Linked DNA regions of Homo sapiens. The protein of the gene in region 6 binds, or shares a complex with, the protein of the main gene of each other region. Each region holds a gene or a part of one and is shown on either strand. Other genes may lie near its edges. A codon is read from its position in the direction of its gene.

Evidence for each region.
Region 1: the proteins of H4C15 (region 6) and CREBBP are in contact, whole or in part, in an NMR structure (PDB 2RNY), measured with the Homo sapiens proteins. Residues at the interface, in NP_001029249.1 of Homo sapiens: His19 (codon at 814), Arg20 (codon at 811), Lys21 (codon at 808), Val22 (codon at 805), Leu23 (codon at 802); in NP_004371.2 of Homo sapiens: Pro1110, Phe1111, Val1115, Leu1119, Leu1120, Gly1121, Ile1122, Asn1163, Ala1164, Tyr1167, Asn1168, Ser1172, Arg1173, Val1174, Phe1177.
Region 2: the proteins of H4C15 (region 6) and BPTF are in contact, whole or in part, in a crystal structure (PDB 3QZS), measured with the Homo sapiens proteins. Residues at the interface, in NP_001029249.1 of Homo sapiens: Gly15 (codon at 826), Ala16 (codon at 823), Lys17 (codon at 820), Arg18 (codon at 817), His19 (codon at 814), Arg20 (codon at 811); in XP_047291553.1 of Homo sapiens: Pro2951, Phe2952, Val2956, Asp2960, Ala2961, Asp2963, Tyr2964, Val2967, Cys3003, Arg3004, Tyr3005, Tyr3006, Asn3007, Pro3008, Pro3012, Phe3013, Tyr3014.
Region 3: the proteins of H4C15 (region 6) and SLF1 are in contact, whole or in part, in a crystal structure (PDB 8PEF), measured with the Homo sapiens proteins. Residues at the interface, in NP_001029249.1 of Homo sapiens: Ala16 (codon at 823), Lys17 (codon at 820), Arg18 (codon at 817), His19 (codon at 814), Arg20 (codon at 811), Lys21 (codon at 808), Val22 (codon at 805), Leu23 (codon at 802), Arg24 (codon at 799), Asp25 (codon at 796); in NP_115666.2 of Homo sapiens: Asn804, Leu805, Lys806, Glu808, Asp838, Asn839, Ala840, Trp842, His846, Glu847, Asn850, Tyr851, Val873, Asp874, Asp881, Asn885.
Region 4: the proteins of H4C15 (region 6) and HAT1 are in contact, whole or in part, in a crystal structure (PDB 6VO5), measured with the Homo sapiens proteins. Residues at the interface, in NP_001029249.1 of Homo sapiens: Lys6 (codon at 853), Gly7 (codon at 850), Lys9 (codon at 844), Gly10 (codon at 841), Leu11 (codon at 838), Gly12 (codon at 835), Gly14 (codon at 829), Gly15 (codon at 826), Ala16 (codon at 823), Lys17 (codon at 820), Arg18 (codon at 817), His19 (codon at 814), Arg20 (codon at 811); in NP_003633.2 of Homo sapiens: Asn30, Glu54, Tyr55, His57, Gln58, Asp62, Glu64, Glu187, Thr188, Ala189, Ser190, Ile192, Asp196, Trp199, Tyr225, Arg237, Ser239, Gln240, Glu276.
Region 5: the proteins of H4C15 (region 6) and ATAD2 are in contact, whole or in part, in a crystal structure (PDB 4QUU), measured with the Homo sapiens proteins. Residues at the interface, in NP_001029249.1 of Homo sapiens: Arg4 (codon at 859), Gly5 (codon at 856), Lys6 (codon at 853), Gly7 (codon at 850), Gly8 (codon at 847); in NP_054828.2 of Homo sapiens: Val1008, Phe1009, Val1013, Asp1020, Tyr1021, Ala1060, Glu1062, Tyr1063, Asn1064, Pro1065, Asp1066, Asp1068, Gly1070, Asp1071, Ile1074.
Region 7: the proteins of H4C15 (region 6) and KMT2C are in contact, whole or in part, in a crystal structure (PDB 6MLC), measured with the Homo sapiens proteins. Residues at the interface, in NP_001029249.1 of Homo sapiens: Gly15 (codon at 826), Ala16 (codon at 823), Lys17 (codon at 820), Arg18 (codon at 817), His19 (codon at 814), Arg20 (codon at 811); in NP_733751.2 of Homo sapiens: Leu1084, Tyr1094, Arg1095, Glu1096, Glu1097, Asp1098, Leu1099, Ile1100, Leu1101, Gln1102, Trp1109, Glu1120, Val1123, Ala1127.

Annotation. Positions count from the first base shown.
Region 1 is NC_000016.10:3,734,214-3,737,713, reverse strand, and holds part of CREBBP (CREB-binding protein), read left to right. Parts: intron 1-898; coding exon 899-1,064; intron 1,065-1,510; coding exon 1,511-1,678; intron 1,679-3,500. UniProt on the Homo sapiens protein: Acetylates histones, giving a specific tag for transcriptional activation. Mediates acetylation of histone H3 at 'Lys-18' and 'Lys-27' (H3K18ac and H3K27ac, respectively).
Region 2 is NC_000017.11:67,940,503-67,944,002, reverse strand, and holds part of BPTF (nucleosome-remodeling factor subunit BPTF), read right to left. Parts: coding exon 3,347-3,500; intron 1-3,346. UniProt on the Homo sapiens protein: Regulatory subunit of the ATP-dependent NURF-1 and NURF-5 ISWI chromatin remodeling complexes, which form ordered nucleosome arrays on chromatin and facilitate access to DNA during DNA-templated processes such as DNA replication, transcription, and repair.
Region 3 is NC_000005.10:94,684,669-94,688,168, reverse strand, and holds part of SLF1 (SMC5-SMC6 complex localization factor protein 1), read right to left. Parts: intron 1,597-3,500; coding exon 1,451-1,596; intron 1-1,450. UniProt on the Homo sapiens protein: Plays a role in the DNA damage response (DDR) pathway by regulating postreplication repair of UV-damaged DNA and genomic stability maintenance.
Region 4 is NC_000002.12:171,928,961-171,932,460, forward strand, and holds part of HAT1 (histone acetyltransferase type B catalytic subunit), read left to right. Parts: intron 1-3,500. UniProt on the Homo sapiens protein: Histone acetyltransferase that plays a role in different biological processes including cell cycle progression, glucose metabolism, histone production or DNA damage repair. Coordinates histone production and acetylation via H4 promoter binding.
Region 5 is NC_000008.11:123,319,350-123,323,447, forward strand, and holds the end of ATAD2 (ATPase family AAA domain-containing protein 2), read right to left. Parts: intron 3,718-4,098; coding exon 3,589-3,717; intron 1,827-3,588; coding exon 1,785-1,826; 3' UTR 501-1,784; downstream 1-500. UniProt on the Homo sapiens protein: May be a transcriptional coactivator of the nuclear receptor ESR1 required to induce the expression of a subset of estradiol target genes, such as CCND1, MYC and E2F1.
Region 6 is NC_000001.11:149,860,264-149,862,653, forward strand, and holds H4C15 (histone H4), read right to left. Parts: upstream 897-2,390; 5' UTR 869-896; coding exon 557-868; 3' UTR 501-556; downstream 1-500. UniProt on the Homo sapiens protein: Core component of nucleosome. Nucleosomes wrap and compact DNA into chromatin, limiting DNA accessibility to the cellular machineries which require DNA as a template.
Region 7 is NC_000007.14:152,181,004-152,184,503, forward strand, and holds part of KMT2C (histone-lysine N-methyltransferase 2C), read right to left. Parts: intron 2,154-3,500; coding exon 1,971-2,153; intron 1,592-1,970; coding exon 1-1,591. UniProt on the Homo sapiens protein: Histone methyltransferase that catalyzes methyl group transfer from S-adenosyl-L-methionine to the epsilon-amino group of 'Lys-4' of histone H3 (H3K4).

The DNA.
Region 1 (3,500 bases), on a different chromosome or scaffold from region 6:
GGCAGGTGGATCACCTGAGATCAGGAGTTCAAGACCAGCCTGACCAACATGGTGAAACCCTGTCTGTACTAAAAATACAAAAAATGAGCCAGGCGTGGTGGCGGGTGCCTAGCGTAATCCCAGCTCCTCAGGAGGTGGGGGCAGGAGAGCCACTCGAACCAGGGAGACAGAGGATGCGCTGAGTCGAGATCATGCCATTGCACTCCACCCTGGGCAACAACAATGAAACTCTGCCCCCCGCCCGCAAAAAAAAAAAAAGAAAAAAGAAAAAAAATGTTCCTCCTGCCCCTTGCTGTTAAACCTTCCCTGCCCCAGGCGACCACTAATCTACTTTGTCTCTCTGAATTTGTCTTTTGTGAATCCTTTGTGTAAACGGAACCCTGCAGCGTATGCTGTCTTGGGTCTGGCTTCCTTCTCTAGCCCTTGGTTTCTGTACTCTAGACCTGCCCCATTCCCTTCTGAAACTTGAAAAGGATAGGGGCATTTGATCAAAGTGTCTTGAACAGAATGAATGAGGTTTATGTTGACATTGACCCTTGGAGAAAAATAGTCAACCGAACTGCCTTTACAGTGCACAGGAGGAAGGGGATGGCATTGCCTTGATGAGCCATCATATTCCCTGGTTCTTTAATGAGGCCTCAGGTTTCTTTTGCAGCCTCGGCCCTGCCCTGTGTGTGCACCCCAAGGGAGAAGTGTTGCAGGGCTAATTTGCAGGCTTGCATTTGCTCAGGATAAAGTTCGAGCCTTGCCCCCACCACACCCAGCTTTGTGGGCATTCATTCTCTCTCTCTGGTTACTTCTGTCCTGGCTTTAGTCCTTGCTCCTCTGCTATAACTCCTTAAAGGCAGGGCCGATTTCACTGGCACGTTCATCTGACGTGTGTGCGTGGGTCCTGCAGGTATGTGACAGGGCACATCTGGGCCTGTCCTCCAAGTGAAGGAGATGATTACATCTTCCATTGCCACCCACCTGATCAAAAAATACCCAAGCCAAAACGACTGCAGGAGTGGTACAAAAAGATGCTGGACAAGGCGTTTGCAGAGCGGATCATCCATGACTACAAGGTACCCGGCGCTGAAGGAAGGTGGTGGCTTTTGTCACAACTGAGGGGAGGATATTTGTGTGCCTTTTTCTTGCATTCGCATACTTGTTAATTACCTTCACTTATGAGGATTAGAAAGCAGAAAAATAAAAGCCTAAAGTGAGAACTTAGAAGCATTTTCTTCAGCTGATTGAGGCTTTCCCCTGGCCGTCTGAGAGCAGCACAGTTGGAGCTGTTTCCATCAGTGGGCATTGGGGCCTGTGCATCACTGTTGCACACATAGGGGCTCCAGCACTGTGGTGGGGGGTGCACATGTGTGGGGGTCTGCTGCACTGTGGTGGGGGGGCACACATGCATGGGACTCTGCCACACCATGGTGAGGGGCACGCTTGCGTGGGGGTCTGTCGCACCATGGTGGGGGGCACGCGTGCATGGCCCTCATCTCACTGTTGTGCTTTGCCCACTCAGGATATTTTCAAACAAGCAACTGAAGACAGGCTCACCAGTGCCAAGGAACTGCCCTATTTTGAAGGTGATTTCTGGCCCAATGTGTTAGAAGAGAGCATTAAGGAACTAGAACAAGAAGAAGAGGAGAGGAAAAAGGAAGAGAGCACTGCAGCCAGTGAAACCACTGAGGTACAGACCCTTCTCTGAGCTCCATTGCCCACGTGTCCCGCTGGAGCTGCAGGGTGGCAGGCTGGGAGGCGCGTGTCGACTGTTAGGTCCTTCCTGTGGTGGTGTCTCCGTTCACACATGCACGTCGACACCACCTGCAGCACAGGGCGTTGGTGGGCAGCAGTGTGGGCTCTGCACTCTCTGCACAGTGGATGCTCTGGGGAGCTGGGGGTCCACTTAGACTCGGAGAGGGAAGAGAGGAAGACAGAAAATGGGACATGGGGCAGTCAGGACACAACCCGCTGATGTAAAAAGTGAGTCGAGGAGGCACAGGGTTGCCAGGCCTTATTCCGTGTTTGGTGGCCACTCTGCACATGATGCTCATGCCCTGCTGCCCTCTCTCCTTGGCGCTGCCCCTGAGTGCCAGGCAGTGCAGACTGAGCCAAACAAAACCCCATCCCTGGCCAGGCGCGGTGGCTCACACCTGTAACCCCGCACTTTGGGAGGCCGAGGCAGGCGGATCACAAGGTCAGGAAAGGGAGACCAGCCTGGCTAACACAGTGAAACCCCATCTCTACTAAAAATACAAAAATTTAGCCGGTTGTGGGAGGGGGCACCTGTAATCCCAGCTACGAGGGAGGTTGAGGCAGGAGAATCGCTTGAACCCGGGAGGCGGAGGTTGCAGTGAGCCTAGATTGCGCCGTTGCACTCCAGCCCAGGAGACAGTGCGAGACTCCGTTTCAGAACAAACAAAACCCCATCTCCGCCCCCAAGGGAGTGGCTGTGTCCTGGTAGGATGTGAAACAAAAAGAACCCAGACCCAAGCATGGTGTGCTCTGAGCGTGGCAGAGCTCTGAAGGGGAAGGAGCCTTGGGGAGGTGGCGTGTGGGCCAGACCCGCCCACCACAGGAAGGTGCTGGAAGAGGACCCGCCAGGCGGTGGGAGGAGGCGCGCTGTGTGCGGGTTTGTGCGGCTGTCTGGGGAAGAGATGATGGTGGCGTGGGTGTGGGCTGTAGCTGTAGGTGCAGGGAGAGCGATGACGAACGTTGAAGGCTGCAGCCCCAGAACTTGGGACAGGCGATTGTGACCAGTGAGGAAAAGCGGTGAATGGAGGTGGCTCTTGCGTGGGCTGCTGCCATGGGTGAGGCAGCCGGGAGCCGGCTGGGGACATACTGCCACTCTGGTGCCTGTCCCATATGAGAGCACGTCTGTGAGGTGGGTGCCGGATGGGCTGTAGGCGGAGCGTGGGGCCTGGGCCGCTTCCGCCACACACACTCGTGCTCACTGCACAGGTGGTTGAGAGGCAGCCACCTGCTGGACGGCGCCCCAGAGTGTCATTCGCAGGACAGAGGAGGCGCGGGCAGGGGGTGGCGTGGGTTTACGCCCTAGGTGGCTCCTAAGCAGAGCTCCTGGCCTGTTGTCTTCGGACTTGCTCCCGCTGGAGTGTAGCTGGTCTCACTGGTGTCTGGTGAGTTAATGCTTGAGTTCCATCTCCTAAGGGTGACACGGGAGGTTACCGCGTCCGAGACAGGCTTTGCGCAGCTGAGTTCCACCCCAGGAGGGGGCACCTGCCTGTGGCATGGCAGCAGTGGGGTTGTCCAGAAGACAGGCCTGATAGGGGCTCCTGCTGGGGCAGCCTTCCCTGTGCACCGGGGACATGCATGTGTTAGGAGGCGGGATGCTGAGGTGTCGGCATGTAGACCTGCTGTCCCTTGTGTGTTTGGTTCATGGACAACAATGGGCAGGGACATGCCTTCGTCAGCAACACCCCAGGAGCTCGCTCTGGGGGTCAGCCTTAGTGAGGGCTGGTGCGTGGGGTGGAGCACTGCTTTGCTATTAGCTC
Region 2 (3,500 bases), on a different chromosome or scaffold from region 6:
AAGTAAGAATATTTATGTTGCTTAGTAGGAAAAACATCAACAATCCAGAGTTCCAGTTCAAGCTCCCCCAATGGTCAGCCAGTTATCTGTCCACAAGCAACACTGTTCCTCCAGATCCAAGTTTCCCAATCTATAAAATAAAGGTATTGAATAACTAAAGTCCCCACAAAATTCTGATTTTAAATAATCTTATATTCATATTTTACAATTTCAAAAGCATCTTCATAGATACTGCCTCATTTGATTCTCACAATGGACTTGTGACTTTATGGGGTAGGCAGAGAAAATATTCTTCTGATTCCCAACTAAGAAACTCAGGTTAGAAAGGTCAAGTACCCTGGCCAACTTAAAGGTGAGATAAAAGAAGGAACCTAGATCTCCTGAATTTTGTCTTTCAATACGTGCCAAATTACCTATGGGGTGTGTGTGTGCTAAACTGTAAAAAGCTTAGGGTTTTAGATATGTAATGCAAACACCAAGTAAGGAGGATCACTAAGGTCTGAGCAGTTACCAAAAAGGGGTCCAGAAATTTAAAATTCTCTAGGCGCTCTCTCTTCTGTCCAGAACTGTAATTCAACTAGAAACCCTGAATACCAGGAACATGCTGGAGAACTGGAAAGCAAAAGTAAAAACCATCCCCTAAACTCCCAATGACCAAAACTGATGGCGCAAAGTCCATGTACTAAGTAAGCTCCATATACATGTGAATCCCTCAAAACTTATTTACTCTTGCTTTTCTAAAATACATTTTTTATGCACAAAATGCACAAAACACCAAGTATAATTTAAAAATTATAAAGTAAACATCTATAAAACCGCCACTGTGGTCACCATTGCCAGTGTCCTAGAAGTCCCCATATGACTCACCCGGATTTCAATTCCCTCCCTCTCCCCTAGAGGTAAGCACTATCCTCACTTTGATGATAACACTGTATTTCATTACTACTTCGGTATGTATCTTAGGTATATATAAGGCCACTGAGGTTCACAAACTCAGGAGCAATATTCACAAAGAATACAATGGGAATAGTGCCCCCTCCAGGCAGGCAATGCAGCAGCCCTGTATCCCTACACAAAATAGCTTAGTTTTGCCTATTTCTGAATCTTATACAAATGAAATTATAACATGTATTTTTTTTGGCAGCTACTTGCTTCTTTAGCTTACCATTATATATTTGTGAGAATCATCTGCATAGTTCTGTGTGGCTGAAGTCTATTCATTTTTATTGCTGTAGGAATATACTACAATTTACTTAGCTAACTGATTTTGATAGACACCTGAGTTGTTCTTAGTTTTTGATTCTTATGAACAATGCTGCTACCAATATTTATGCCATGTATTCTGGTGCTCACATGGCCAACAACTTCTCTAGGGATATACCTAGAAGGTATACTGGGACCTTGGGCATACACAGCTTTGACTTTACCAGACCATGTCCAGGAAGTTTCCAAAATGGCTGAACCGACTGATAGGCCCACCAGCTGTGCATGAGAATTCTTTCTGCTCTATGTCTTTGCTAACTCTTGGTTTTGTTGGACATTTAAATTTGTACCAATCTCTTAAGCATATGGTTTTAATATGTACTTCTCTCATTATTAATAAAGTTCAGCAGTTTTTTGGAATTTGGGACATTTAGATTTCTTCTTTCCTCATAATGTTGGTTTGTCCTTTTTTTTTTGTTTTTCTTTTTTTTGAGACGGAGTCTGTTGCCTAGGTTGGAGTGCAGTGGTATATCTTGGCTCGCTGCAACCTCTGCTTCTTGGGTTCAAGCAATTCTCCTGCCTCAGCCTCCCAAGCAGCTGGGATTACAGGCGTACACCACCACGCCTGACTAATTTTTGTATTTTTAGTAGAAACGGGGTTTCCCCATGTTGGCCAGGCTGGTCTGAAACTCCTGACCTCAAGTGATCCACCTGGCTTGGCCTCCCAAAACCTTGGCCCCCCAAAGTGCTGGGATTACAGGTGTGAGCCACCGCACCTTGCCTGTTTGTCTTTTTTCCTATTGATCTATCTGGATTTTTTTCTTTCTTGATTTGTAGTAATTCTTTATATATTCTGGATATGTAATAGTCCTTGGTTGGTTCTTTTCTCATTTTCTTCACTCTCTCTGTAGTGAGTTTGATGAACAGAGGTTCTTACTCTTATTTTTAAAGTAGTTGAATTTATAAATCTTTTCATTTATGGTTAGCATTTTCTATCTGTTTAGGAAAGCTATGAAGATATTCTTCTATCTTCTAAAGGTATTATAGTTTTACCTTTCACAGTTAGGACTTTCATCCTCCTGGAATTGAGTTTATGTAGAGTGAGGTAATAATGGTCCAATTTCACAGTTTCCCATGTATATTCAATTGTCCTGGCACCATTTACTGAAAAGTCATCTCTTCCTCAATGATCTGCAATGTCACCTTTGTCATATAACAAGTGTCCACATACATGGGGTTCATGTTCTGCACTCTCTACTGTTCTGTTGGTCTATCTGCCTCTCCTTATGTCTGTACCTCACTATATTAATTAGTGAAGTATTATATACTAAGTTTTTTGGTTTTTTTTAGATGAAGTCTTGCTTTGTCACCCAGGCTGGAATGCAGTGGTGCAATCTCAGCTCACTACAACCTCCGCCTCCCAGGTTCAAGCAATTCTCCTTCCTCAGCCTCCTGAGTAGCTGTGATTACAAGCGCATGCCACCACGCCCAGCTAATTTGTTTGTACTTTTAGCAGAGATGGAATTTCACCATGTTGGTCAGGCTGGTCTCAGACTCCTGACCTCAAGCAATCCACCCGCCCTGGCCTCCCAAAGTGCTGGGATTACAGGCGCAAGCCACCATGCCCAGCCTATACTAAGTTTTGATATCAAGTTATCATATATAGGGCAAATAATCCTGTTCTTCAAAGGTACAGATATTCTTAATACTTTGTACCTCCATATAAACTTTCAGTATCAGCTTGTGAAGTTTCACTAAAAACAAAACCTCTTGGGATTTTGATGGGAGCTGCATTCAATTTATTAATCAATATTAGAAGACTTGCTAACAATATCGAGTCTTGCAAGGAAGCAGCTTAATGTACTCAAATTTTATTTGTCTCATGGAGATTAGCCAACTAATAAAATTTTGGTGTTTAAAAGGGTTATCTGTCTCACTGTTTTAGCTCACTGTCTAAAGATTACTCTAGTAGTTGGGGTTTATTATATCCTGTCTAAGAGGTATTTCTGCTTGACTCCAGGAAGCAACCATTTCTTCAAATCAGCACATTTAAAAACGTATCAAAATAAGTTCATGTTTTTAAACTTACCGCAAGAATAAATAAGATCACCTCTAAAGTTAAAATAAAGCTTATGTTACTTACGTGGCCCTGTGTTAACTGAGTAAGTTGAGCCATGGTGAGCTTCACTTGTCCTTGTTGGGGGCGAGGGGGTTGTGAGGCTGAAGACTGTATATTTGAAGTGGACGTTGCTGAAGTTAAGCTTTTCTGCCCAGGTGTTGAGGAAACCGTGTTAGGG
Region 3 (3,500 bases), on a different chromosome or scaffold from region 6:
ATTTTGTAATTTCCATTCTGATAATGCCTTGAACAGAAAACAAGTCTTTCTTCAACAGAAAACAAAATAAGGAATAAAAACATCCTTAAAGGATTGTTGCAAAACAGAATTTGACTAATATCTAAAGATATTAATATCTAAAGATAGATATTAATATCTACATATCTAAATTAATATTGCCTTATTAATAATAATAAATAATTATTATTAAATATTAATATCTAAAGATAGCCAAAATAAAACTGGAAAACTTTAAATCAAATGTAGCTTATATGCATAATATTTTGCTTTTTAAATACCATTTAGAATTTTGTTGGATCTAGTTCTTTCCAAAATAATAACCTATGTAGGAATTTTATTAGGAAACAAGGATTTTTTAGTTTTCTATGATCAACCCTTGGCTACGCTCAAAAGTAATTAAAATTTCTTTTTCCTTTCTTTTCTTTCTTTGTTGTTGTTGTTGTTGTTGTTGTTGTTGAGACAGGGTCTTAGTGTGCCACCTAGGCTACAGTACAGTGGTTATCACAGGTCACTGCTGCCTCGACCTCCTGGGATTAAGGATCCTCCCACCTCAGCCTCCCGAGTAGCTGGGACCACAGGCATGTGCCACCATGCCCAGCTAATTTAACTTTTTTTTAGAGACAGAGTATTGCTATGTTGCCCAGGCTGGTCTCGAACTCCTGGGCTCAAGGGATCCTCCTGCCTCAGCTTCCAAAAGTGTTAGAATTATAGGCAGGGGCCATCATGCTCGGCCTTAAAATTTCTATTTGGTGATTACCTTCCCCCCACTGCCCCTGGAGAAGGGGTCTCACTATGTTGTCCAGGATGGAATGCAGTGGCTATGCACAAGTGCAACCATAATGCACTACAGCTTCAAATTCTGGGGATTAAGCAATCCTCCCGCCTCAGTCTCCTGAGTAGCTGGAACTACAGGCACTCACCTGCAGGCACTCACCTACAGGCACTCAGCACGGCCGCTGGCTTTCATTACTCTAATTAGAGACAGAAATATACTAGCTTTTATACAGAATTGAAATATTTATGAATTAATATATTCTGCCTACTTACTTGAAATAACTAAGAATTTTTTAAAATTGAGTTTGTGGGCCAGGCGTGGTGGCTCACGCCTGTAATCCCAGCACTTTGGGAGGCCGAGGCAGGCAGATCACGAGGTCAGGAGATCGAGACCCCGTCTCTACTAAAAATACAAAAAAATTAGCTGGGTATGGTGGTGGGCGCCTGTAGCCCAGCTACTCGGGAGGCTGAGGCAGGAGAATGCCATGCACCCGGGAGGCGGAGCTTACAGTGAGCCGCGATTGCGCCACTGCACTCCAGCCTGGGCGACAGAGCAAGCCTCCATCTCAAAATAAATAAATAACTAAATAAATAAAATTGAGTTTGTGAACTCACTTCTTGAAAATGTAAAGAACCAGAATAGAGAGGTACTTACCATTTTCTGAAGAGAGAGTGGCTCAGAAGAAACACTGCCAGAGCTCTGTAGACACAACTTTTTAAAGACTGCCTCTGCAACAAACATTTGAAGCCAGGAGGAGGAAAAGGAGCAAATGAAAATCTCTAATTCCTGTGAAGAAAAGTCTGGAGAACATAAGGTAAGTTAATATAGTTATTGCTGTATCCTATACAATTTTTTCCATAGGCTATTTCCTTAGTGAAGTTTATTCTGTCAAATGAGAGCTCTTACACCTATAAGATTCATCCACATGATTTTAATCCACAAAAAATAGGTCATATCACTATTCCTTGACTTTTAAGAGAAAATATTTAATGGCACATGTTCTCACACTTGAAAAAAACAATCATTAGGTTTGATTATTTCAGATACAAGTCTTGAAATTACATATATACAGATTAGGTAATATATGAATATATAGAGGGGATTTTATTTATCACTATACTTTCCAACTACCATTAAAGATCTCTTCCCACAATAGGGATGCTTCTTTGGAAAACCAGTAATTAGTTTTTAAATGAACATACAAGTATTTAATTTGCAATGATCAGTACTGAGTTGACAGGAAGAAAGTAGACTGCTTCCTATGACAACACCCATGAATCTTATCACTGCAGAAAAGGAGGAAAGGCACAAGGTAAAGAAGAAAAACATGAAACAAGAAGAAACGCACAAGGTAAAGAAGAAAAACAAGAAAGGCACAAGGTAAAGAAGAAAAACATGAAACGAGCATGTATAAAGAAAAACATGAAACAGGAGCATGTATAAAGAAGAAAAACATGAAACGAGCATGTATAACGACTTCCTCAGAAGTTTGCACCCACTCTACTATGGGGGATGGTGGATAATTTTTTTTTTTTTTTTGAGACGGAGTCTCGCTCTGTTGCCAGGCTGGAGTGCAGTGGTGCGATCTCGGCTCACTGCAACCTCCGCCTCCCAGGTTCAAGCGATTCTCCTGCCTCAGCCTCCCAAGTAGCTGGGACTACAGGTGCGTGCCAGATGGTGGATAATTTTAAATGATGAAACAAAAAACAAGAAAACACCAAGAGCCTCAAATATCTTCTACAAAACCTCAAGAACTTCAATAAGAAGAAAATGCATAAATATACCCATGAATTCAAAGTGATAAAGGAGTGACTATTTCCCATGTGATCTATTTAATATTATAAACTATTAATATTCTCTATGTAACATAATGAAAATGCAACAAAATGATAATGAAAGAATAAATAAGACCAACCAAGAGGATATCAAAAAAGCTAAAATTACAAACAATATAAAAAAGTTGTGATATTATACAATAAGGGAGATTAACTATAAATACTGGAAGAATAAAGAATAAGTCAATACAGTTAGCAAAGTAAACATAATAAACAGCAGAAGAGAAGAATTAAAATTATAAGCATTAAGTTAAAATATAGTTTTAAAATCAGACAATGATAAACTTAATAGCAGTATAAGGCATAAAAGCTGGCCTCTCTATTCAGGGGTGGAATTCTTTCAGCGTGAAGAGAATGCAGACACCCAGTCAATGTCCTGCTCAGATGCCTTCATAAAAGGCTGGGGCTCTAGTGTCTTGTAGTCCTTGACCCTTGACTCTGATTTTCAATAGTGGATGGGAGAAGTAAAAGAGGATTTGCTCTCAGGTAACATTTGGTAATTTCTGGTTGCCACATTGGGGAAAGGGATGCTATTGGCATCTAGTGGGCAAAGGCCCAGGACGCTGCAATACACAGGACAGCCCCAACAACAAATAATTATCCAGCCCAAAACATAATCAGTATACAGGCTGAGAAACTTGCCTTGACTAAAGAGATCTGATGCCCTTGCCTTGTGGCAGCTTGTCATAAGGAGTGTTTAAACCTTTGGGCAAATGGCTTCAGGTCAGATGTTAACCAGATACAACTAACCCCAAACAGATATATTATCACTGAATTTAGATAATCCCTTCCAATATGGCCTCTACAGAGATACTTTTTTTTTTTTTTTTTTTTTTTTTTGAGACAGAGTCTCGCTCTATTGCCCAGGC
Region 4 (3,500 bases), on a different chromosome or scaffold from region 6:
GGATTTGCTGGGTCAATAGGGTATTTGTATGTTTAACTTTATGGGATACTTGGCCAGACTGACTTCCAAAGTACTTTTATACTCACATCAACAGTGTATTAGAATTTTCGTTATTCCATATCCTCACCAACATTTTATGTTGTCAGTTTTTAAAGTTTTAGGCATTCTACTGGGTTTATAGTAGTATTTCTTTGTTAATAGTACTTCATAGTGGTTGTAAAGATTAAATAGGTTTTAATTGTCTTTTCCCTCATAACTAATGCTATTAAGGATTGTTTTTTTAATGTGGTTATCGACTATCTCCTTTTGGACTCATGTATTCACATCTTTTGCCCATTTTAAAATTAGGTTATTTGTCTTTTTGTTATTAGTTGTAGGTGTTATTTACCTACATATTCTGGATGAGTCCTTTATGCAGATTACATGTTTTGTGCACATTTTTCTCTCAGTTTGTGGTTTGCCTGTTCATATTCTCAACTTTTTTTGTATAACTGGAAGTTTTTAGTTTTAATCATGTCCAGTTTATTAATTTTAAAAATTTCTATTAGTGTTTTCTGGTTCATGCCTAATATCTTTGTCTACCCCAAGGAGATCATGAAGCTCTCCTAATGTTTTCTTCTGGAAGGTTTTTAGTTTTAGCTTATTAAAATTATGTCCATGATCCATCTCATGTTATTTTTCATGTCCAATATGAGGAAAGGGATTAAGGTTTGTTGTTCCATGTGGATATCCACTTGTTTCAGTATAATTTGTGTGAATGCCTTGGTGCGTTTTTAACAAAAAAATATTGAACTTACACGTGTGGATCTACATCTGGACTTTTCTCATTCATTGTCTGTTTTTCTGTCAATATCGTACTGTCTGGATTAGTGTAACTTTCTATTGATTCCTGGTAGTGTGAGTCCCACATCTTTATTTTTTAAAGATTGTTTCGATTATTCTTGACCTTATTTCTGTATACATTTTGGAATCAGGTGGTTAATTTCTATTTAAAAAGTTCTGACTAATCTTAAGATTACATTGAATCTAAAATTGAATGTGGGGAGAATTGCTATCTTAATAACATTGAGCCTTCCAGTATATGAACATGATGTATTTCTGTATTCTAGAAATGTTTCAGGTTTTCAGTCTTGCATGTATTTTGTTAAATTTATCTGAGTAAATCTACATCTTTTGATTTTTGATGCTCTTAAAAATGGTATACTTTTTTATTTATTTATTTTTGTATGTGTGACATGTTCTCACTTTGTCACCGAGGATGGAGTGCAGTAGCGTGATCTCCACTCACTGCAACCTCTGCCTCCGAGCTCAAGTGATCCTCTTACCACAGCTTCCCGAGTAGCTGGGACTCCGCATACACCACCATGCCTGGCTAATTTTTGTATTTTTTGTAGAGACAGGGTTTCGCCTTGTTACCCAGACTGGTCTTGAACTTCTGGGTTCGAGTGATCTGCCCACCTAGGCCTCCCAAAGTGCTATTACAGATGTGAGCCACTGTGCCTGACCTAAAAATGATATACTTTAAACATTTTCTCTTCCAATTGCTTGTTTTATGTGTGTGCATGTGCATATGCATGGACACACAATGGCACAGTTTGTGTAATTGTTTTGTATTCTGCAACCTTGCTAAATTCACTTATTATTGTAGTTTTTTGTATTCTGGGCTTTTTCTGAGAGAGTGGCTCACTCCATTGCCAAGGCTGGAGTAGAGTGGCGTGATTGTGGCTCACTATAGCCTTGACTTCCCAGGCTCAAGCGAACCTCCCACCTCAGCCTCCTGAATAGCTGGGACTATAGGTGCGTGCCACCATGCTTGGCAAAATTTTTTTTTTTTTCTAGGGACAGGGCCTCACTATATTGCCCATGCTGGTCTTGAACTCCTGGGCTCAAGCAATCCTCTTGCCTCAGCTTCCCAAAGTGCTAGGGTTGCAGACATAAGCCACCACACCCAGCTATAGGATTTTTTTTTTTAGATGTAGATTATTTCAGATTTCCTGCACACAAACATTACCTGTTAATGAAGAAAGTCACAGTTTTTCTTTGCCTTATACAGTTGTCCATTGGTATCTTCAGGGATTTGGTTCCACGATCCCCCGTGAATACCAAAATCTGCCGATGATCCGGTCCATTATACAAAATGCCATAGTGTGGCTGGGCATGGTGGCTCACATCTGTAATCTAGCACTTTGGGAGGTTGAGGCAGGCAGATTGCTTGAGCCCAGGAGTTTGAGACCAGCCTGAGCAACATGGCAGAACCCCATCTCTACAAAAAATACAAGAATTAGCCAGGCATGATGGTGTGCATCTGTAGTTGCTACTCAGGAGGCTGAGGTGGGAGGATCTGCCTGAGCCCAAGAGTTCTAGGCTGCAGTGAGCTGTGATTGTGCCACTGCACTCCAGTGTGAGTGACAGAGTGAGACCCTGTCTTGATAGATAGATAGCCATATAGCCGGGCATGGTGGCTCACGCCTGTAATACCAGCACTTTGGGAGGCTGAGGCAAGAGTTCGAGAAGACAAGCCTGGTCAACATGGTGAAATTCCGTCTCTACTAAAAATACAAAAATTAGCTGGGCGTGATGGCACACACCTGTAATCCCAGCTACTTGGGAGGCTGAGGCAGGAGAATTGCTTGAGCCCAGGAGGTGGAGGTTGCAGTGAGCCGAGATTGTGCCACTGCACTCCAGCCTGGGCGACAAAGCAAGACTGTGTCTCGGGGGGGAAAAACAGCCATATAGTACAGTCAGCTCTTTGTATCTGCAGATTCTGTGTTTGAGGATTCAGCCAATCTCATGTTGATCCGTAATTGGTTGAATCAGTGGATGTGGAACCTGCATATGTGGAGAGCCACTTGTGTTTCATTTTCTTGCCTTACTGCACTGGCCAGAACCTCTATTACAATGTCAAATGGAAGTGATAGAGTAGACATCCTTGCCTTATTCCCAATTGAAGAAGGAAAATTTTGAGCCTTTCACCATTCACTATGATGTTAGCTGTAGGTTTTTCATATGTGCCCTTTATCAGGTTGAGGAAGTTTCCTTCTATTCCTAGTTTGGTGAGAGTTTTTATTATGAAAGTGTTACCTTCTAATGCTTTTTCTTTATCAAGATAATCATAAGATTTTTCTCCTTTAATTCTGATAATGTGGTGAATTACATTGATGAGGTTTTAAGTGTTAAATTAGCCTTGCATGCCAGTATATTATCCTTTTTCTGCTTTGCTAGATTTGACTTGGCAATGTTTTGTTAAGACTCTTTGTTCATGACAGGTAATGGTTTCTTTTTTCATACGTCTTTGCTTGATTTTGGTATCAAGGTTTCCTGGCCTCATAAAATGAGTTGGGAACTGTTTCTTCTCTATCTTCTGGAAGAATTTGTATAAGACTGCATTATTCCTTTAAATGTTCAGTAGCATTCACCAGTGAAGTTTTATGTGCCTTGAGTTTTCTTTGTTGGAAGGTTTTTAACTATACATCTAATAAATAGATTTAATACTGTTCTGA
Region 5 (4,098 bases), on a different chromosome or scaffold from region 6:
GGTCCCAACTACTCAAGAGGCTGAGGCGGGAGAATCGCTTGAACCTGGGAGGAAGAGGTTGTGGTGAGCCGAGATCATGCCATTGCACTCCAGCCTAGGCGACAGAGCAAGACTCTGTCTCAAAAAAGGATTTCCTACATATAAAATCATGGCATTTGTAAATAAAGAGAATTTCACTTTTTCCTTTCTGAGTTCCTTTTGTTTTTCTTGCGTTAACTGCACTTTTGAGCAACAAATGGGAGATAACATTCAACACTGCAATTTCAGCATGGTTTTCAAACTCTACATAGGAATGTAGACATAACACTTCTAAAATCTGTAGAAGACATTTCAGGAAGCACTTTAGTCGTTGTACCTAAAATACATGTACCATATAAAAACATTCCAGTGTCAACAGCACTTTAAATTTTCACAGTAATATATGAAAGAACAGACTTTACACTTCTTTTGCACAGAATTATCTTTGCTATGTTTTAAAATACTTAAGAAATAGAAACAAATTTAAGAGAGTTTTCACCTTTAAAATTTATTACATAAGCTATACACACAAAATGAAATCCTAGTTATAAAAGATGCATCTAGAAGAATAATTTATAATAAACCAACAAAAATGAGAATGTGTATCTCCAGGAATATAAATATATTTAAATGTTCTCAGTGACTGGCATTGCTTTATGCATTACATAAGATAGTATGTACTAATTAAGGTATTGAATTCACTGGGTTTTAGAAGGCTTTAAAAAAAATCCAGATAAATCAACAACAAAAATACAGCTCAACTTTGAACTGCATTAAAATCCAGAATCTCTCATTTTAGATGACCATTCCTTATTCCCCTCAAAAGGTTTCCAACAGAAGCTATTTCACAAACTGATTATTAGAATGTCTTCTCCCCACTCTCCCCAAAAGCAAGTATGCATGGAAGTGCATGCTTTTAACCTTAAGAAATGTATTTTTGGTACCATTAATATAAAATTATAATATTTATATTTATAAAATTGTATATAAAAAGTATCAATAGACTATAACCTAAACAGTTTTAGAAAGATATCAACAGCTTGCAAATATAAAAACCTTGTGCTATTAAAAGGTGTTTAACAAGGTAGTTATTAATACATTTGTTGTGTATATAATTACAAAAGTAAACCAAGAAATATTTAAAATCTTTATTAACCCAAATTAGAATTATAAAAATGTTTGTCTCAAAAACAATGACTGTGATACTCAAGTACAGAATTGTGGTGCAGCCAGAAGTGGTTCAAGAGCCCTCCCGCAAATCATGACTTGCACTCTGGCTTTTAAGTGAAGACGAGGGAATCTCAAGGCAGATGGGAGGAGGGCATTTGAAGAAAACAAAGATGACAAAAAAGATGGGAAGGACACAATGGTTAAGTAAGTTTCTTGTCAGATACAATAAACTATTTTTAGGAAGGATAAAATTAAAAGTGCTTAATACAAACAAAATTTAACGCTGCTAATTATTCTTAAGTGCCATAAAACATTAGTTACCAAAATAACTTTATTAAGAGTTGGCCAAACTTCAACTATTATTACTATTACTACAGGGTCTTGTTCTAGCAAAGTTCCAATATTTATCAGTTATCTTACACATGACATTTATCTTAATATGTACATAAATATCAGGAAAGTTTAAATACTTTTATTTTACTATTTTAATCTTTTCCTTAAAGATGCAGGGTTTCATACTACATCAATTAGGCGGACATGACAAAAATGACTTAAATAGGAACTGAATATAAAGAATACTCGATACCATGACATCATCATCTGGAACAACTGAAGTTTTCTACCTCTTGCTCCATTTTCTAGATAAAGGGGAGGAAGAGCAAATAGTAAGTTTCAATATGGAATAAGCTAAAGAAACATTTCATTACTTTTTCAGTAAACAACCTTAAGAATATTAATATTCAGGTATATATTTGATAGTGAAAATAAACATTCAGTTCAGTATTTAAGACTGCCACATAGATTTTACCTGTAGGACTTCATTATTTAAATAACTTTGAAATGAGTCTGGGGTGCATTCATCTTATGTTAAATTCAAATAGTATTAATCAAGGTACTGATGTAGTTAGAGTTTAGTATTTTACACTTTGTAGGTATCAATATTATATATATACTACATAGTATACTTTAGTAGGTATACTAAATACTATATATATACTAATGGTTATCATTTTTATATTTTGTAGTTACCAATAATATGCATATGTAAGTAATATCTTTTTTTAAAATTTAGCACTCTCTAGTGAAATGATCTGTTATTAAAAATAATAATAAGGCCAGGCATGGTGGCTCCTGCCTGTTAATGCCAGCACTTTGGGAGGCTGAGGCGGGAGGACCGCTTGAAGCTACGAATTTGGGACCATCCTAGGCAACATAGCAAAACCTCCATCTCTACAAAAAATTTAAAAATTAGCCCAGTGTGGTGGTGCTTGCCTATAATCTCAGTTACTTGAGAAGCTGAGGCAGGATTGCCTGAGCTCAGGAGTTCCAGGTTATAGTGAGCTATGTTCTTGCCACTGCACACAGAGAAAGATCCTGTCTCAAAAATAAGTATTAATGCTCTAATTAACACTATAATACCTACTATAAAGGAAGATTAAGTACATAAGTCTTTTTTTTTTTTTTTTGTCATACAGAGTCTTACTCTGTCAGCCAGGCTGGAGTGCAGTAGCTTGATCTTGGCTCACTGCAACCTCTGCCTCCCAGGTTCAAGTGATTCTCATGCCTCAGCCACCCGAGTAGCTAGGACTATGGGTGCACACCACCACATCTGGCTAGTTTTTGTTGTTTTAGTAGACATGGGGTTTCACCATGTTGGCCAGGCTAGTCTTGAACTCCTGGGCTCAAGCAATCCACCCGCCTTGGCTTCCCCAAGTGCTGGGATTACAGGCATGAGCCACTGTGCCTGGCTGACAAGTCTTAAAAGAAGCTATTATTCTTCATTAATACATACACACAAAAGGGGTATTCATAGTTTATGTTCCACTATTTATTAAAGACACAAACTATTGGCTGGGTGCAGTGGCTCACGTTTGTAATTCCAGTACTTTGGGAGGCTGAAGTGGCTGGATGGCTTGAGCTCAGGAGCTCAAGATCGGCGTGGGCAACATAGTGAAACCTCATCTCTACAAAAAACACAAAAATTAGCTGGGCATGATGGCAGGTGCCTGTGGTCCCAGCTACTTGGGAGGCTGAGGCAGGAGGATCGCTTGAACCTTGGAGGTGGAGGCTGCAGTGAGTGAGTTGAGATCGCACCACTGCACTCCAGCCTGGGCGACAGAGACCCTGTCTCTAAATAAATAAATAAATAAACAAACAAACTAATTAAGTTATAGATTGGAAAAATACTAAACTCACTTGCATTTAGAAATAATTCATAATCCACATATTAAAAATGATCTTTATGGAATGGGACATCAACTTTGGAAATAGAAAGATGGTCTTTAAGTTCCTACAATCAGTTTCTTACACAGATTAAATAAAGCCTCAACAATCCTACATAAGTGATATATTAATGTGACCACAAGAGCATTTGTAAAAAGTTTCCACTCAAGAGTTTACCTGAATAAGTGATGTTTTATCATGGTCCTTGCGATGCCGATAAATACATTGGCTGATTACTGCATACAAATTTTCCAACTGAAATATGTTGTAGTTTTGACTTTTTTTAACAACAGTCTTCAAAAGATTCTAAAAGAAAATATGAGTGTCAATATGTGTGAGAGAGAAACTTCCTCAGACAAGATACTTAATTTAGAAGGTTTGGGCAATTATTACAAGCCTGACAGAGGGTAGACCAAGCCATCTGATGACACAGGGCAGCCTCTGGCAGTGGCTCTGACATTTAAATGTACTTAAGTCTAGCTATAATCCTGGCCTTGACCTTGAGTAACTCATATTCTAAAAACTAGAGCTGAGGGGATTGCCAATTCTAAGTCTAGCCATAAGCATCTACAAACAAATTAAAAACTAACCTCAATTTAGATTAACAGGAGAAAAGCAAAGTTTTTTTGCAGGGGATTTTATGATAGTATAAGTACATTTTAACTAATTTTATTATGTGAAACTAAA
Region 6 (2,390 bases):
GAAATGAAGCCCAAAACAGTCAATCGTGAACTCTAAGCCGATCAGGTGGGAAAGCCGGCATCTCTAGAATGAAAACCTAAGGCTGCTTCTCCCACTTTGCCTGAGCAAATATAGTGAGATTACACAGCAAGGCATGTGTAAATTGCCAGTGCCTATTTCTCAGAACCAGATTTGGTGATCGCAAAGACTGACGTGGCCCTCTAGGTGTGCCTATACTGCACCAGAAGAGCAAGCCGAGAAAGCAGTGCTCAAACCTAGAGCATTCAACCTTTCATACCGATAAAGGCTTTAAAAAAAAAAAAAAAAAAAAAAAAAGCCCAGGTAAGTGAAAAAGCCGCTTTCGGTCAACGACTTAAGTCTTTACGGCTGTGAGCGCTATGGGCCGCGGTAGCTTTCCGTTAACTTCAGATCCGATTGTCGCCCCACTGCCAAAGTTACCTTCCAACATCGTTACTGTTGCACTTTACGCAGTCAAGTGTCCAACTCCTCAGATGAGCAAGTGGTCGGCCCTAAAAAGGGCCTTTGGGATCGAAACGTGCAAAGCTGGAGCGGCGGCCTAGCCTCCGAAGCCGTACAGGGTGCGCCCCTGGCGCTTGAGCGCGTACACCACATCCATGGCTGTGACGGTCTTGCGCTTGGCGTGCTCGGTGTAGGTGACTGCGTCCCGAATCACATTCTCCAGGAACACCTTCAGCACACCGCGGGTCTCCTCGTAAATGAGGCCAGAGATCCGCTTAACGCCGCCACGCCGAGCTAGACGCCGAATGGCAGGCTTGGTGATGCCCTGAATGTTGTCTCTCAAGACCTTGCGGTGGCGCTTAGCGCCCCCTTTGCCTAAGCCTTTTCCGCCCTTTCCTCTGCCGGACATGACCGCTGGAGCCCGATAGACAGCTTCTGTCAAGGCGAGCACCGTCTTCCCCTGATATACAAGAGTATCGGACCAGATTGAAAACCGAAAGCGCGCCGGCGGGAAGCGTTCTCAATTGTCCCCGCCCTCTCGACATTTCGTCATTTCTTTTCTGTTTTCCTCTCCCTCCTCCTCCACTCTGCTCAGGTCCCTCTCACTCTTTTTTTTTTTTAACCGCTACGCCACAGTCCCCGGGAGAATTCAGATCCCAACCGGGGCTTCCGGATTCTGTAGTGGCTTTGGCCTGTGTCTGGTCTGAGGACGCCCGGAAGGCATTGCACTGAGGCTAAGGGAAAGGTCTCTGGAGGGAGCCTCAGGAAGAGCAAATGGAGGCCAGAGACTGGCAGGAGCGCGCCAGCGCAGGATTTAATCCCGACGAGCGGATTCAGAGCCGTGCTTATATAAAGCTTCAGGAAGCGCCGTTCCGACGATGAGGTCGACACGCGAGAGGCGACCTCAAGAGCGGCGGCGCCAGGGATCTGTGCGCCAAGGGAGGACGGGAGGGAGCAGGTTCGCCATAATTCCTGGCTCCAGGCTCTGTTTTGTTGGACCGAGCCACTGTATTTTAGCTCACACAGGAGAATTCTGGCCCTGGGAAAATTGGTCTCAGCATGCTGCCAAGCTTTCTCATGGACGTCAGCGAATCCCAACACACTGTCGGTCAAAGCCGTGCTGGAAGAAACAAAACAGTTCTCCCTCGGTAGAACTGAGAGGGGATTGGTCCAGGGCCCCCGCCGATACCAAAATCCAGGTTGCTCAAGTCTCTCATAGAAAGTGGCGTAGTATTTGCACATAACTATGCACATCCTCCCGTGTACTTTAAATAGTCTCTAAATTACTTCGTAACACCTAATCCAGTGTAAATGCTATGTAAGTAATTGTTATACTGTTTTTATTTTTACTATCTTTTGTTGTACTTTTTTTTAAAAAAGAAATTCATTTGTTTAATATTTTCGGTCTTGGGGAACCCGCGTATATGGAGGGCCTGCTACATAGAGAAGACTGAGGGATATTCTGTGCATCCGTTTCTACGGATCCTCTAAATCGGCCTTTGTTTTCAGCCAGGATTTAGTGCCCAGCTGTGTCCTTTGGAGGCCCCACATGGAGCTAGCAAAGTTTGCTAAATCGGGTTTTGCAAGAGGACTGTCTGCTCCATACTGGGAGTAGTTACCGCAAACTGCCCTATGAAATTGGTTGGGGTTCTTACTGTTAGCATGTTTATTACTTTATCAGGGCTCTCTGTAGGAGAGTCTATGAGAAAATCTTCTGGTTTCTGCTGAAAGAATCGTGTTTTGTTGGGGTTTTTTTCCCGAAAAATATTATTTTTAAAAACTCTTCTGTGCCCTGTTTAATCTCTCCCTTGGATCCACCTTCTGTGTGCTCATAAATCGTAAATCTGTATTCAGACTTCTGGACTCGAGACACGTAGATCCACCTGGTGGTTCTTCAGTCATTTTAAGCCCAAAACTCAAAATCTCCCGAA
Region 7 (3,500 bases), on a different chromosome or scaffold from region 6:
TGTCTGAAAGACCAGGTCCAGGGGGCCTAGGTGTCTGGGAACATGTATCAGGTGGCCTTACCAACGGGCCAGGTAAAGCTGGTCCTCGGTTTTGTGCTGCTTGCAGGAAAGGATCCTGATTTGGCATGAGGACTGGTCTTGTCATTGAGGACCTAGTAAAACCCTCTGAAATCCTTGGCCTTGGTGTTGCTGGTGGCTGAGAGTAAGGGACAGAAATTCCAGGTCTTGGTGTTCCAGGAGGATGAGCATATGGATCAGAATGCCTCTGATTTGTTACAGGTGTAACAAACAAGTCAGTTTGTGTAGATGGTCTTGGGGTTTGGGGCTGCTGACTATATGGGTCAACAGTAGTAGGCCGGGGAGTTCCAGGAGGTTGAGAGTAAGGGTCTGTATTGGACCTAGCTGTTCCTGAAGATTGGGAATAAGAATCTACAACAGGTCGTGGAGTTCCTGGGGGTTGGGAGTATGGGTCCTGAGATGTTGGCCTTGATATGGTTCCAGGCTGGGAAAAAGCCCTTGAAGGATGGGCAAAAGATTCATTCACTGCTGGATGTGGGGTAAGGGGAGGCTGACTATATGGATCATTTGACTGATTATGAGAAAAATTATCTATAGGTCTTGGTGTCAAAGCAGGCCTTTCATAAGGGTCAACAGACAATCGCCTTGATGCCTGTGACACTGATCCATAAGGATCCTGAGAGGATGGAGGAGGTTGCATTGGAGTCTTAAAAGGTCCAGGACCACTATCAAGAGGTGCAGGTGTCAACAAGGGTCGTGCATATGAGTCAGGTATCCTTTGTCTTTGAAACACATCTGCCCTAGGAGATGGTTTAGTAAAGTGATCACTGGTTCCAGCTGCTATAGGGCCTTTTGCAGTTTGTTCTGAAACTACAGGAGACCGGGATAGGCCCAAGGATTTGGGAAATTGATCTGTCATCACAGGCCTAGGTGTGTCTGGAGGTTTTGCATAGGGGTCATTATTTGTCGTGGAAGAAGAACATAAATCTCTGACAGGGGATGGCCTATTTGCTGTTGTCTCATTCATTTGAAGGGGCCTAGATACCGATGATAAAGGTGTACAGTTTTCCACTGGTGCAGCAGAATTTCTTCTGGAAAAACTATGGCCCACAGGAGGTGGTCGAGGGGTACCAACCATTTTTGCATATGGATCCATTGGAGATGGTGGTCGTGAGTTAGAGGACCCAGGTGAAAACACTTGCGGTGAGGGTGGCTGAGAAGTCTGAGCCTGAGAAAGACTATCCTGGATGGGAATCCGGGATGGGGCTGGAGGAGGAGGTGGAGCTTGTGGCTTTACAAACACATCATCTGAAGATGTAGACGTAGGGGTACTGGGTGGCTGTTTTGTAAACAGTTCTTTATGGAATGACTGTGCAGGAGACATATTTCCATTGCCAGGCTGAGGTGTCAAGGGACTCTGTATCCCACTACTTGGTGTATCTGAACCAGACTGCACCAGAAGATGCTGAGAACCAAATTGCTGTTGTTGCTGCTGCTGCTGCTCATTTTTCACCTGTTCAAGTTTCTGTGTGGCTTCAATTTTAGCTTGCTGCTTACTTTTCTGACGCATTTGCTATTAAAATAGAAAAGAAAAAGCAATCATATTTAGGTTAAGGAAGAAAACTACCATCATGGGGGGAAAAAGCAACAGAAAGTTAATTTGTTTGATGTCAGCGCTACCAGATTGCTCCCATATTAGATTATGAATTCCTGAAGAAGAGAAATTACTCATCATGGTATGTTCCATTTGTGCCTAGGGCAGTATATTGTTTATAATATTTCAATAAATTTCTCAAATCAATTTAAATATATTTTACTGAAAAGAGAAACAAGTCTATCCTAAATCAAATTTTCATGGTCTAAGAACTATATTCTAAAATAATAATGCAAAGACCTCCCTTCTCAAAACAAAAATGCAACTTCAAAAAGTAGATTATCCAAAAATTCCATACCTGTCTAAATTTCCATTCCTGTTCATGTTCTGATTCTCTTTGCTTTAAAGGATCTTTAAAAAGCTCCGAATCAATACGAGAGCTGGGATCAATGCTATCTTGCTGTTGCTGCCTTTTCATGGAATCATTTGACATCTGTACTTTATTAATGCGTAAAGCAGCTCTGTTATCTCTGGCTTTTTGCTTTGACAAAAGAAGAGAAAAAAATTTCCCAGATTATGTTAAATGTTTTAAGGAATAAAATAAAACTATCATGAACTTTCTCAAATAAAAGAAAAAAAAGTCAGGTAAAATAGCTGAAATACTTACGGCACCTCCCAAAAAAGGATCTGGACACTAACTCATCTTCTCTCTTTACAGTGCATAGTACCTATCAGTTGAGGATATATTTCTATGTATTTGAATTAAGCTTAAAGATCCTAGGTGTGATTTAATATTTTAGCTCCTAGTTTTCTTAACATATCCTTAGAAATTATGTCTCCTTCAATTTAGAAAGAAGGGGCTGGGGCCAGGCATGGTGGCTCATGCTCGTAATCCCAGCACTTCGGGAGGCCAAGGCGGGTGGATCACCTGACGTCAGGTGTTTGAGATCAGCCTGACCAACATGGTGAAACCCCACCTCTACTAAAAATACAAAATTAGGCCAGGCGCAGTGGCTCACACCTGTAATCCCAGTACTTTGGGAGGCTGAGGCGGGTGGATCACCTGAGGTCGGGAGTTCGACACCAGCCTGACCAACATGGAGACACCCCATCTCTACTAAAAATACAAAATTAGCCAGATGTGGTGGCACATGCCTGTAATCCCAGCTACTCGGGAGGCTGAGGCAGGAGAATCACTTGAACTCAGGAGGCGGAGGTTGTGGTGAGCCAAGATTGCGCCATTGCACTCCAGCCTGGGCAACAAGAGCAAAACTCTGTCTCAAAAAAAAGAAAAAGAAAAAGAAAAATCAGCCAGGCATGGTGGCACATGCCTGTAATCCCAGCTACTTGGGAGGCTGGGGCAGGAGAATCGCTTGAATCTGGAAGGCAGAGGTTGCAGTGAGCCGAGATCGCACCATTGCACTCCAGCCTGGGCAACAACTGTGAAGCTCCATCTCAAAAAAAAAAAAAAAAAAATTTAGAAAAAAGGAAAAATATCCAATCAGTCTTAAAAAAAAAAAAATCTGGATATTTGAAACGTATCATTAAAGAAATCACTTAAAAATTTAAAAATTCTGTCATTACCTAATTCAAGTCAAAATAAAACACAGCATATTAACACATCTATATATATATATGTGATAGAGCATATACACACATATATGCTCTATCCAAAATAATCACTGTAACTGAAAATATGTGCACTGGGGAACAAGCTGGAAAATAACTATATATATTTTCCAACAATAATACAGATTTAATATGCTTTAAAACGAAAGCAAGGATTTGGTTCCAGCTGACAATCTTAATTTGGCTCTTTGGGAGAAAATAATTTACCATATGAACTGCGAATCTTATAAAATTACCTAATAGTTCATGGCAAAGATCA